2 linked regions of the Homo sapiens genome follow. The protein of the gene in region 1 purifies or fractionates together with the protein of each later gene. This does not show direct contact. Each region holds a gene or a part of one and is shown in the gene's direction. Other genes may lie near its edges.

Region 1 (5,251 bases):
TAAAGGAACATTTCTGGTTGTTGCTTGGAAAGAAGTGTCAGGGGCAAGAATGCTGCAGGAGGGCTGGCCTGGAGGACAGGGTGGGACTGCGGGCTGGCTGCACGGGGGCAGGAGCCTGCGCTTGCGTCAGAGGTTCCTGAGAGACTCGGTCTCTGGGGCAGAGGCCTGAGCAAGGGGACCTCGCTGGGGTGTCTCTGTCTTAGCCACGCTCGGTGTTTCTGGGTCCTGTGACCCACGTGTGAGCAGCCTGTGGTGCTGGTGGCACAGGGAAGGAAACCGAGGCAGGGAGCCTGTGGGGGCTGCTTGGCAGGGGACAGGCAGCTCCTGTGCCCACTGCTGTCCCACACCTGCATGGAAACAGAAACCCCGCCACGGAGCCCCCTCCCATCTCCACAGGGCCTCTAGAGCGCCATGTGCAAGGACTTCATGGGCGGGGTGGGGTGGGGTCAGGAGCCTGCTGTGGGCTGGCCAGGCCCTGGCCCTCCCTGTCGCACCCTGCGCTGCCTCCATGCACCTCTCAGGGCTGTCATGGCTTTTCCTGTGGCTTCTGACAGGTAGAGTCAGCGATGACGGCTTCATAGCCATTAAGCTCACAGCACTGGGGAGACCCCAGTTTCTGGTAAGTGCTAGAACCTTCCACCTGCAGAGTCTGGTGCTGTGCGAGATCTCAGGGCAGCTGTGGGCATCCACCAAAAACACAGGTGCCCATGCCTTAGAGGCCTGAGCTGGCCACAGGGGCTGTGTGGGGGACTGGGGTGGGCAGGGGCGTGTGCAGATGGCATTCAGGCCTGCGTTTGCAGCTGCAGTTCTCAGAGGTGCTGGCCAAGTGGAGGTGCTTCTTTCACCAAATGGCTGTGGAGCAAGGGCAGGCGGGCCTGGCTGCCATGGACACCAAGCTGGAGGTGGCGGTGCTGCAGGTGGGGCAGCCTTCCCCTTCCCCACTCCTGTGGCTTGTGAGGGGGTGGGCACCGTGGGGTCACACGGGGCATGGTGGGCAGTGGTCGGAGGTGGTTTTGGGAACTCACCCAGGGCATGTGGCTCACTCTGCAGCTGCTGGGGTTGGCCTGGTGGGGAGGAGGAGGTCAGAGGGACTCTGAACAGAGAGGGGAGATGCTGGCAGGAGGGCTGGAGACCCAGCCCTGCAGGGCGTGGGCGTGCATCAGCAGCGGGGTGGGAATAGACCTGTCTATGCAGTAGAAACAAACCAGACATGGATCCTGTTCTTACTAACGATGTAATAAAGCCAGAAACAGCACCAGAGGCCAATGGGTGGGGGGAAGGATAAAATATGAGTGAATGGGGCTGATCCAGGCCTTCTCACTTCTCAAGGAAAGTGTCGCAAAGTTGGGCATCGCATCCAGGGCTGAGATTGAGGACTGGTTCACGGCAGAGACCCTGGGAGTGTCTGGGTGAGAGCAGCCCCCAGGCTGAGAGGACACGAGCATCAGCCATGGTTCCAGCCAAGCCCCAGTGACGTCTCCCAGTCCTGGCTGCCCTGCCTGAGAGGGTGGGCCCTGGGATGACAGTGCTGAAGGAACTGCTTTTCACACAGCAGGACTTGATGGCTTCAGGAGTCCCTGAGGCTGGGGCTGGGCTGGGCAGGGGAGACACAGGGCCAGCACAGACCCCATAGAGGGCTCTTTATAGAATTATCTGGGTCCAGAGCAAAGGTGGCACTCTCAGCCCTCCCTGGAGTCCACGCCGGCAGGTGAAGGATCAGAGCCCCATGCCCCATCCTTGGAGCCAGGGGCTGGGACCCAGATCACCAGGAGCCTCCAGTTGAAGTGGGGAGGTGACTGGGGTGGTGCAGTAGTGAGCCATCCCCTCACACACTGCCAGCCTTGCCCACTGTGTCCTCCCTGGCCGCCCGGAGCTGTGTCCGCCTCCTGCCTGGCTGCCTGTGCTCGGCCCCTCCACAAGCCCAAAACAGCCTAGGGTACTCAGTGTTTTCAGAGCCGCCTAGATGCAGGACTGTTTGTGTTTTGGTTTTAAATTTATTTAATTAATTTATTTTTTATAGAGACCAGGTCTCACCATGTTGCCCAGGCTGGTTTCAAACCCCTGGGCTCAAGTGACCTGCCCGCCGCAGCCCCCAAAGTGCTGGGATTATAAGTTTGAGCCCCCGCATGCCACTGGTTTTAAATTTTTAAACAGAAAACAATATTTATATTTCCTCTGTCTTTTAAAACTGAACACCGAGGTGGGTTTTGTGGTGGGTGGTGAACGGACAGGTTTGGGCCTCGATCCCCCACCCGACCCTAGCACCCACAGGTGGGGGTGCCCCCTCTGCTGATGCGCCTCCTCCCTCAGCACCATGGACCTGCTGGACTGGAGCAGCCTCATCGACAGCAGGACCAAGCTGTCCAAGCACTTGGTAGTCCCCAACGCACAGGTAACACCTCCGCTCCTCAGTGAGGCCCAGCTCAGCAGGGCGCTGCGCTAAGAAGGGAATTCAGCCTGCCACGTGTGTCTCTTGTTGCCTACCCTGGGAACTTAACATGACCAAAATCACTGCACACTATGGCCCCACAGACCCCCTGTGGTCCAGGGGGAAGAAGACAAGCCCACTAGTGTCCACAGAGTGCTTGGCGGGACAGAGACCCACGCGGAGCCTTAAGACACCACAAGGAGAGGGGGTCTGGGGGCCTTCCCCAAGTCATCTGTCTTGTGCATCAGGTCACCCCAAACTTCAGAGGCCTGAAACGGCAGCAGCCACTCTGCTTCTGCCTCATGGTTCTGGGGTTGACAGGGCTCAGCTGGGCAGTCCTCCCCTGGGGTCTCCTGGGTAGCTGTACTCACAGAGTGGTGGCGCTGGGACCTGGGGGAGGCACCCATTCACATGTCTGGGAGTTGGTGCTGGCTGTGGCTTGGGCTTTTTCCCAACATGGCAGCTGGGCTCTAAGGGCCAGTGTCACCTGAGACGTGAGAGCCAGGCAGAAGCTGGGTGACCTTTTCCTGCCTCGCCTCAGAAGTCACACGGTGTCTTTTCTGGCAAGTTCTGTTTGTTAGAAGCATGTCACCAGGCCAGCCTGTATACAGCGGGGAGAGGAATGAGACTCATCTGCCTGTGGGAGGGGGGCCCAGGACCTGGCAGACTGCTTGAAACCACAGCTTAAACTGGGATTCAAAGAAAGAACAGAAGCACCTTCAGAAAACATCCTGCAGAGGCAGCTTTCCATGACACATCTAGCCCCAGTCCACTAAGGGCCCAGCCTCAAACTTAGAGCCCCCGACCCAGAGCCTCGGGGCGCAGTGCGTACAGTGTGGCTGTGCACCAAGGCCACCAGCTGTTGGAGACTTTAGCATGGTGTAGCAAGGGATAGAGTGGTACTGTTTGTGCCCAGTGAGGCAAGGCTGCTGGGGCCAGCAAAGGGGTGAGCGGGAGGCCCTGCGGGATGGGTCCCCACGGCCTCTGAGCACCAGCAACTTGAAGGCCTCATCCTGGTGGTTGCCCTGGTCCCTGGCTACGTGTCAGCACGTGCTGCACAACTGCCCTGTCTGCCTGTAGCCAGGGGTCTTCCTCCTGGGCCCTCTGCCTGCTCCGGGTGGAGCCCTTCTGTTTGACGATTGGGTGATCAGTGTTCACTTGTTCAATGTCACATGGGAGTTGCAGGGGGCTCTCCCACAACGGTGGGGCCTCTGTGGGAACTGGGGAGTACACACTTCGGAGTGCAGGCCTGGACTGAGCCTGGGGCCCACTGACATGGGCACTGAGCTCCCTCGTGGTACCCCTAGGCCCCGCATAGGGCAGTGCACTGGCTGCGTTGGAGGTTCAGGGGCACTGTGCTGCTTGTCCAGGTGGCCCTCCCTCCCAGCCCTGCACAGACGGGTGAGAGGGTTCCTGTGGGCTGGGAATACTGAGAGAGGTTTAGCCTGGGCCTCAGGGTGGCACTTTCCCGCCCTTGCTGTGGCCTGACCGCGTGTTGCACCCCCAGACAGGACAGCTGGAGCCCCTGCTGTCCCGGTTCACTGAGGAGGAGGAGCTACAGATGACCAGGATGCTACAGCGGATGGATGTCCTGGCCAAGGTGAGCTGTCCCGCTCGGGCAGAGGGTACCTGGGACTCGTGGAGAAGAGGGCACCTGCCTCACTTGAGCAACAGTTGCTCCCACTCTCCCACCCCCTGCGCCTCTCAGAAAGCCACAGAGATGGGCGTGCGGCTGATGGTGGATGCCGAGCAGACCTACTTCCAGCCGGCCATCAGCCGCCTGACGCTGGAGATGCAGCGGAAGTTCAATGTGGAGAAGCCGCTCATCTTCAACACATACCAGTGCTACCTCAAGGCAAGCCCCCGCTCAGCCCCTCCCTGCCTGCCCTGGGGCTTGGAGACCCCACAGGAGGGGCTCCTCTCATCTGAGCTCCCTGGCATTTGGCTGGTTTTACACTCAGCACCCACCAGGGAGCTCATGGGATGGAGGAGGGAGTGGGCCGTGCCCCCAAGGGGTTGTTGGGGTCTTCTGCAGCACAGCTCACCCAGCGGGCCCCAGGGTCCAGGAAAGAGCCCCTTAGGTGGTGGCCACAGCCAGGCCTGCAGAGGAGGCTGAGGCCAGGGTGACTGCCTCAGAGTAGCAAGAAAGACCCGCTGCCCGCAACCTCTCCCCTGGTTCTCAGAACCAGCCAAGAGTGTCTAAGGAGCAGGAGGAAGACAACAATCTTTATGAGGGTCCACTAGATGTACCCGACACCCCAAACTTGGAAGGTGTCACATGACCATTTCCTCCAGCGTGTTTTCAGTTCAGCGCCCCTAAGAACCTCCTGAAAGCTTTGGGCCCTCCCCGGAAAGACTCACCCAGGATGTCACATGTATTCAGGGAGCCCACCCTAGCCTTTGGGCCCCAAACTGCTCAGGGATGTTAGCAGGTCCAGAGCTCTCAGGGGTGAGCCGGATGCCCAGAGGACACAGGGTGGCATGGGGAGGGGTCCAGGCAGGAGCATGCAGTATGCACCCCTCCCGGTCGGCCTGGGAGTCTGGAGCACATGATGGCTGCTGGCGCCTGGGCTGCACCCACAGGGCCGTCCACAGGCCACACAGGAAGTTGCAGACGTCCCCACTGCCATTGCTCCTTGGGGACAGAGGTTGGAGGCCCATCCTCACCCACACCTGCTCCAGGTGCCCTGAGCTGCACCTCCCCAGGCAGCTGCTGCCCAGCCCTGGTGACTGCACCTGGGCCCAGGAAGGCCCCATCCTGCTGTCACTTGGGCTTGCCCAGGCTCCCTGTGACTTTTGGCCCTGGCCCCACAGGATGCCTAT
Region 2 (5,251 bases), on another chromosome or scaffold:
GAGCATCTACTGTGTGCCAGGCCCCTGTCCAGTCTCCAGGGGTTCAATAGTGAGCAAAACAGACACAAGCCTTGCCCTACTCTTAGGGCCATTAGTCCACCAGGCTAACAGACTGGTGCCTCAGGATAACATTTTTGCTGGGGGAGGTGGCTCATGCCTATTATCCCAGCACTTTGAGAGGCCGAGGTGGGAGGATCACTTGGAGGATGCCCAAAGAATTTAACACCAGCCTGGGCAACACAGCAAGACCCTGTCTCGATTAAAAAAAAAAAAAAAAAAAAAAATTAGCCGGGCATGGTGGCACACACCTGTGGTCCCAGCTACTCGAGAAGCTGAGGTGAGAGGATCACTTGAGCTCAGGAGGTCGAAGCTGCGGCAAGCCATGATCGCACCACTGCTCTTCAGCCTGGGCGCAGAGTGAGACCCTGTCTCAAAGACATCTTCAAGGTTAAAAAAGCTCAGGAAAGACTACTGCAGCCTGAGCTCTCCGGTGCACACAAGCACACTGAGGTGCTGATAAGCCACCTCTGCAATAGAGCAACCTGTTTAACTTGGTTTAACTCACATTTTTACAAACTTATTTGTCCTCGATCCTCAATTTTAGTAATCTTCTATTCACTTCCTGCAGGATATGAGTGTTCCACGGAAAAGCAAAACACTGTCCTAGATTTTTATCCTAACTCTTTCACTTTTCAGCCATCTGAGGTTGGACAAATCACCTCACATCTTTGGGATTCTGTTTCCTTCCCTTAACCTGGAATGATAAAAATCTACCTTGCATAAACTGTACTTTCCTATCCAAAGCTGAAGGAATTTTTTTTTTTTTTTTGAGACAGGGTCTCACTCTATTGCCCAGGCTGGAGGGCAGTGACATGATCGTGACTCACTGCAGCCTTGACCTCCAGCTCAAGCAATCCTCCCACCTCTGCAGCAGAGGGATTGTTAATGCCAGGACCTTTGAACTGTCAGAGCCCGTGCCCCACTCCACCACCAGTATCCCAGTGCCCTTAATACCCCTCCAACAACACACACACACAGACACACACTATACACATCCCACTTGGCTTCTGAAGGCCTGAGGCCCTTCACCACCCTAGAGATCTGACTCTCCTCTTTCTTCCCTTCCCAGGTCCCAAAAGAGGTACAGAAGATAAAGATGTGGGGCTTGTTCCTGGACACATACCCACTCCACCCCTGGCTGCAAGTGGATTGGCAAAGGGTGGAATTTGGCGAGAGGCTCTGGGGGTCACTGGGTTAGGATTCCAGCCCTCTTCAGGGCTGGTAGGGGTCGGGAAAGGAAGAGACCCTGTTGGAGTTGCGGGCCACTTAGATGGTGTCCAGGCCAGGTCAGTTGGTGGTGGCACCTACCTCCAACCCTGCCCGGCCAGGCTGTTCACCCTGGGGGACCCTCCCTCCCTAACCTCCCATGCCAGTCCTGTACCCACTTCCAGGATGCATATAGTTTCAGAACATTCAGGATGTCCACTTGAAGAAGGAATTCTTCACGAAGTATCAGGACCACGGCTTCTCAGAGATCTTCACCAACTCACGGGAGGTGAGCAGCCAACTCCGGCTGCCTCCGGGGGAATATATCATTATTCCCTCCACCTTTGAGCCACACAGAGATGCTGACTTCCTGCTTCGGGTCTTCACCGAGAAGCACAGCGAGTCATGGTAAGGGGCTGCAGCTCACTGCTCCAAGGCCCGCCACCCAAGAGCTGCAGGATATCAAGCTCAGGGAGCTGCTGTCGGGTCCTCCCTCACTTTGTCCCTATTTTACAGTCAGGGAAACTGAGGCATGAGAAGGTGAAGTCCCAGTTAGTGGCAGAACCAGAACTAGAACTAGAACCCATATTCCATGGAGCTGCCCTATATTGCTTCAAAGACATGACATGACCCCCAGAGCACCCCACTAAAACCCCCACCTCCCTCCCCCTGGTAACTCTTGAGCTTTCAATCATTTTGCCCAGGGAATTGGATGAAGTCAACTATGCTGAGCAACTCCAAGAGGTGAGGGGAGACTGTAGGGCTGGGGGTTGGAAGGAAGCTCCTGGGCCTGTGAAAGAAGTTTTCTGACCAGGTCCCTTTCCTGCTCCCCGGCCCCCAGGAAAAGGTCTCTGAGGATGACATGGACCAGGACTTCCTACATTTGTTTAAGATAGTGGCAGGAGAGGTGAGCAGGCCACGAGCGGAGGGCTGACAGGAGGGGGATGAGGGGCTGGAGGGGCCCGAGTGGGGTTCACAGTTCCCCTTCCTAGGGCAAGGAGATAGGGGTGTATGAGCTCCAGAGGCTGCTCAACAGGATGGCCATCAAATGTGAGTCTTCCACTCCTGCTGCACACGACCCCTCCCCCATATTTTGTGCCCCTCTTGATCACTCCCAGTGCCCCCACGATACCTCATTTACCCTGTCTCTCCTTTCTACCCCTTCCCTTCCTCACAGTCAAAAGCTTCAAGACCAAGGGCTTTGGCCTGGATGCTTGCCGCTGCATGATCAACCTCATGGATGTATCCTCCTGTCCAGTGCTCTCTTGGCCCTGTCCCCTGCCCACAAGCCTGGCCCAGAGATGGCCACCCTGGGCCAGCCACGTCCTCCTCCCTGATGGGGATTAGGCTCTGGGGTAGCAGAAGATGCCAGTTCTTCTGGCTGCTACAGTACCGGAACCCCAGGGCTTGTGTGTCCCCTCAGGAACCCCCGCTGCTTCCCTATCCCCTGGGATGCCTTCTTCACTCCTTCTCTGCTGTCCTTGACCACCTTCCAGAAAGATGGCTCTGGCAAGCTGGGGCTTCTAGAGTTCAAGATCCTGTGGAAAAAACTCAAGAAATGGATGGTAAAGGGCACTAAAGGGGCAGCCTCCAGGGGTGAGGAAAAGAGGGTCTTAGGAGAGATGGAACTAATGAGGGGAAGCTAGAACCCAAGCCCTAACCACACACACACACACACCCAACCACACCACACTCACACACACACACACACACTCACATACAGACACAACCACACCACACACACACACACACACTCACATACAGACACAACCACACCACACTCACACACACACACACTCACATACAGACACAACCACACCACACATACACACTCACATACAGACACAACCACACCACACTCACACACACACATACACACTCACATACAGACACAACCACACCACACTCACACACACATACTCACATACAGACACAACCACACCACACTCACACACACACACACTCACAGACACAACCACACCACACTCACACACACACATACACACTCACATACAGACACAACCACACCACACACACACATACACACTCACATACAGACACAACCACACCACACACACACACACTCACATACAGACACAACCACACCACACACACACATACACACTCACATACAGACACAACCACACCACACTCACACACACATACACACTCACATACAGACACAACCACACCACACTCACACACACACATACACACTCACATACAGACACAACCACACCACACTCACACACACACATACACACTCACATACAGACACAACCACACCACACACACACATACAGACACAACCACACCACACACACACACACATACACACTCACATACAGACACAACCACACCACACACACACACACATACACACTCACATACAGACACAACCACACCACACTCACACACACATACACACTCACATACAGACACAACCACACCACACTCACACACACACATACACACTCACATACAGACACAACCACACCACACACACACACACATACAGACACAACCACACCACACACACACACACACACACACACACTCACATACAGACACAACCACACCACACACACACATGAAAAGGGTCTGTTGGAGTGTGGCATATTACCCAGTCAAAATATTTTATAACAAGTATAGCTCAGGTATCATCTAGTCATGAAGGATGCACACAAAGAGCGCTGGGCAGGGCACCAGTGCCCCCGACAACCCATGCTTGGAATTAACCCTTAGGTCACCAGATGATAGGAATATCAGGAGTGGGCCAGGGTTGGAGGGGGGCATGGGGTCTTAGGCCACTGCTGTGAGCCAACTGTCCTAAAGTATTTCTTTTTCTTTTTTTTGAGACGGAATCTCACTCTGTTGCCCAGGCTGGAGTGCAGTGGTGCGATCTCTGCTTACTGTAACCTCCGCCTCCTGCCTCAGCCTCCTGACTAGCTGGGATTACAGGCATGCACCACCACACCCAGCTAATTTTTGTAGTTTTATTAGAGACGGGGTTTCGTCATGTTGGCCAGGCTGGTCTCAAACTCCTGACCTCAGATGATCCGCCTGCCTCGGCCTTTCAAAGTGCTGGGATTACAGGCATGAGCCACCGCGCCCGGCCTCAGTATTTCATTATTTCAACCACCATGCCATGCATGTGGCCCTACCATATCTGTCTGTCTCTTCAGGACATCTTCAGAGAGTGTGACCAGGACCATTCAGGCACCTTGAACTCCTATGAGATGCGCCTGGTTATTGAGAAAGCAGGTGGCCAAGGGTCAGGAGTGGGCCTTGGGGCAGGGAAGAGGATGGCAGTGTCCAGAGGCCCAGACTTTTCCCCTCCCCACTTCTCTCTCCCTCTCTCAGGCATCAAGCTGAACAACAAGGTAATGCAGGTCCTGGTGGCCAGGTATGCAGATGATGACCTGATCATAGACTTTGACAGCTTCATCAGCTGTTTCCTGAGGCTAAAGACCATGTTCAGTGAGTTAGGCATCTACCCACTCCCCAGCCTAGGCCAGGGGCCGCGGGCCCTTTCCCAAACACCCACCCTGATGGGTGCTGCTCCAGATCCCCTCCCCCTTACAAGGCACACATGAAATGGATTCAAAGCCCAGCTCCGCCACTTGCTGGCAGAGGTGACTTGAGCAAGTCACTTAATCTTTCTGTGCCTCCATTCCCTCCTCTTTAGAATGTGGATAATAATAGTACTGCCCTCAAAGGACTGAGGTGCAGGTTAAACCAGTTAGTCTATGGAAGGCAATCAGAACTGGGCCTGGCTCCTGGTGAGGCTATGTGAGTTGCTATCATTAATTCCCCACTTGGCTAGGGGATTTATGTGGGGAACAGCCAGGAACACCTGGTGTCGCCCCTTCCTACCTAGTTGGGAGTGGTTCTTTCGGAACACTGACTTAGCATTCAGCCCCTCTCCCCCGCTTCCTCTGTAACGCAGCATTCTTTCTAACCATGGACCCCAAGAATACTGGCC

What was found.
Region 2: the proteins of PRODH (region 1) and CAPN11 fractionate together in Homo sapiens (co-fractionation; one large-scale study listed by BioGRID). This does not show direct contact.

What each region holds. Positions count from the first base shown.
Region 1 is NC_000022.11:18,918,483-18,923,733, reverse strand, and holds part of PRODH (proline dehydrogenase 1, mitochondrial isoform 1 precursor), read left to right. Parts: intron 1-554; coding exon 555-619; intron 620-800; coding exon 801-917; intron 918-1,329; coding exon 1,330-1,409; intron 1,410-2,310; coding exon 2,311-2,392; intron 2,393-3,935; coding exon 3,936-4,028; intron 4,029-4,136; coding exon 4,137-4,283; intron 4,284-5,242; coding exon 5,243-5,251. UniProt on the Homo sapiens protein: Converts proline to delta-1-pyrroline-5-carboxylate.
Region 2 is NC_000006.12:44,178,490-44,183,740, forward strand, and holds part of CAPN11 (calpain-11), read left to right. Parts: intron 1-1,129; coding exon 1,130-1,141; exon of another isoform or gene 1,142-1,462; coding exon 1,463-1,674; intron 1,675-1,970; coding exon 1,971-2,010; exon of another isoform or gene 2,011-2,011; intron 2,012-2,107; coding exon 2,108-2,173; intron 2,174-2,258; coding exon 2,259-2,316; intron 2,317-2,443; coding exon 2,444-2,508; intron 2,509-2,762; coding exon 2,763-2,831; intron 2,832-4,451; coding exon 4,452-4,530; exon of another isoform or gene 4,531-4,540; intron 4,541-4,629; coding exon 4,630-4,746; intron 4,747-4,954; exon of another isoform or gene 4,955-5,058; intron 5,059-5,215; coding exon 5,216-5,251. UniProt on the Homo sapiens protein: Calcium-regulated non-lysosomal thiol-protease which catalyzes limited proteolysis of substrates involved in cytoskeletal remodeling and signal transduction.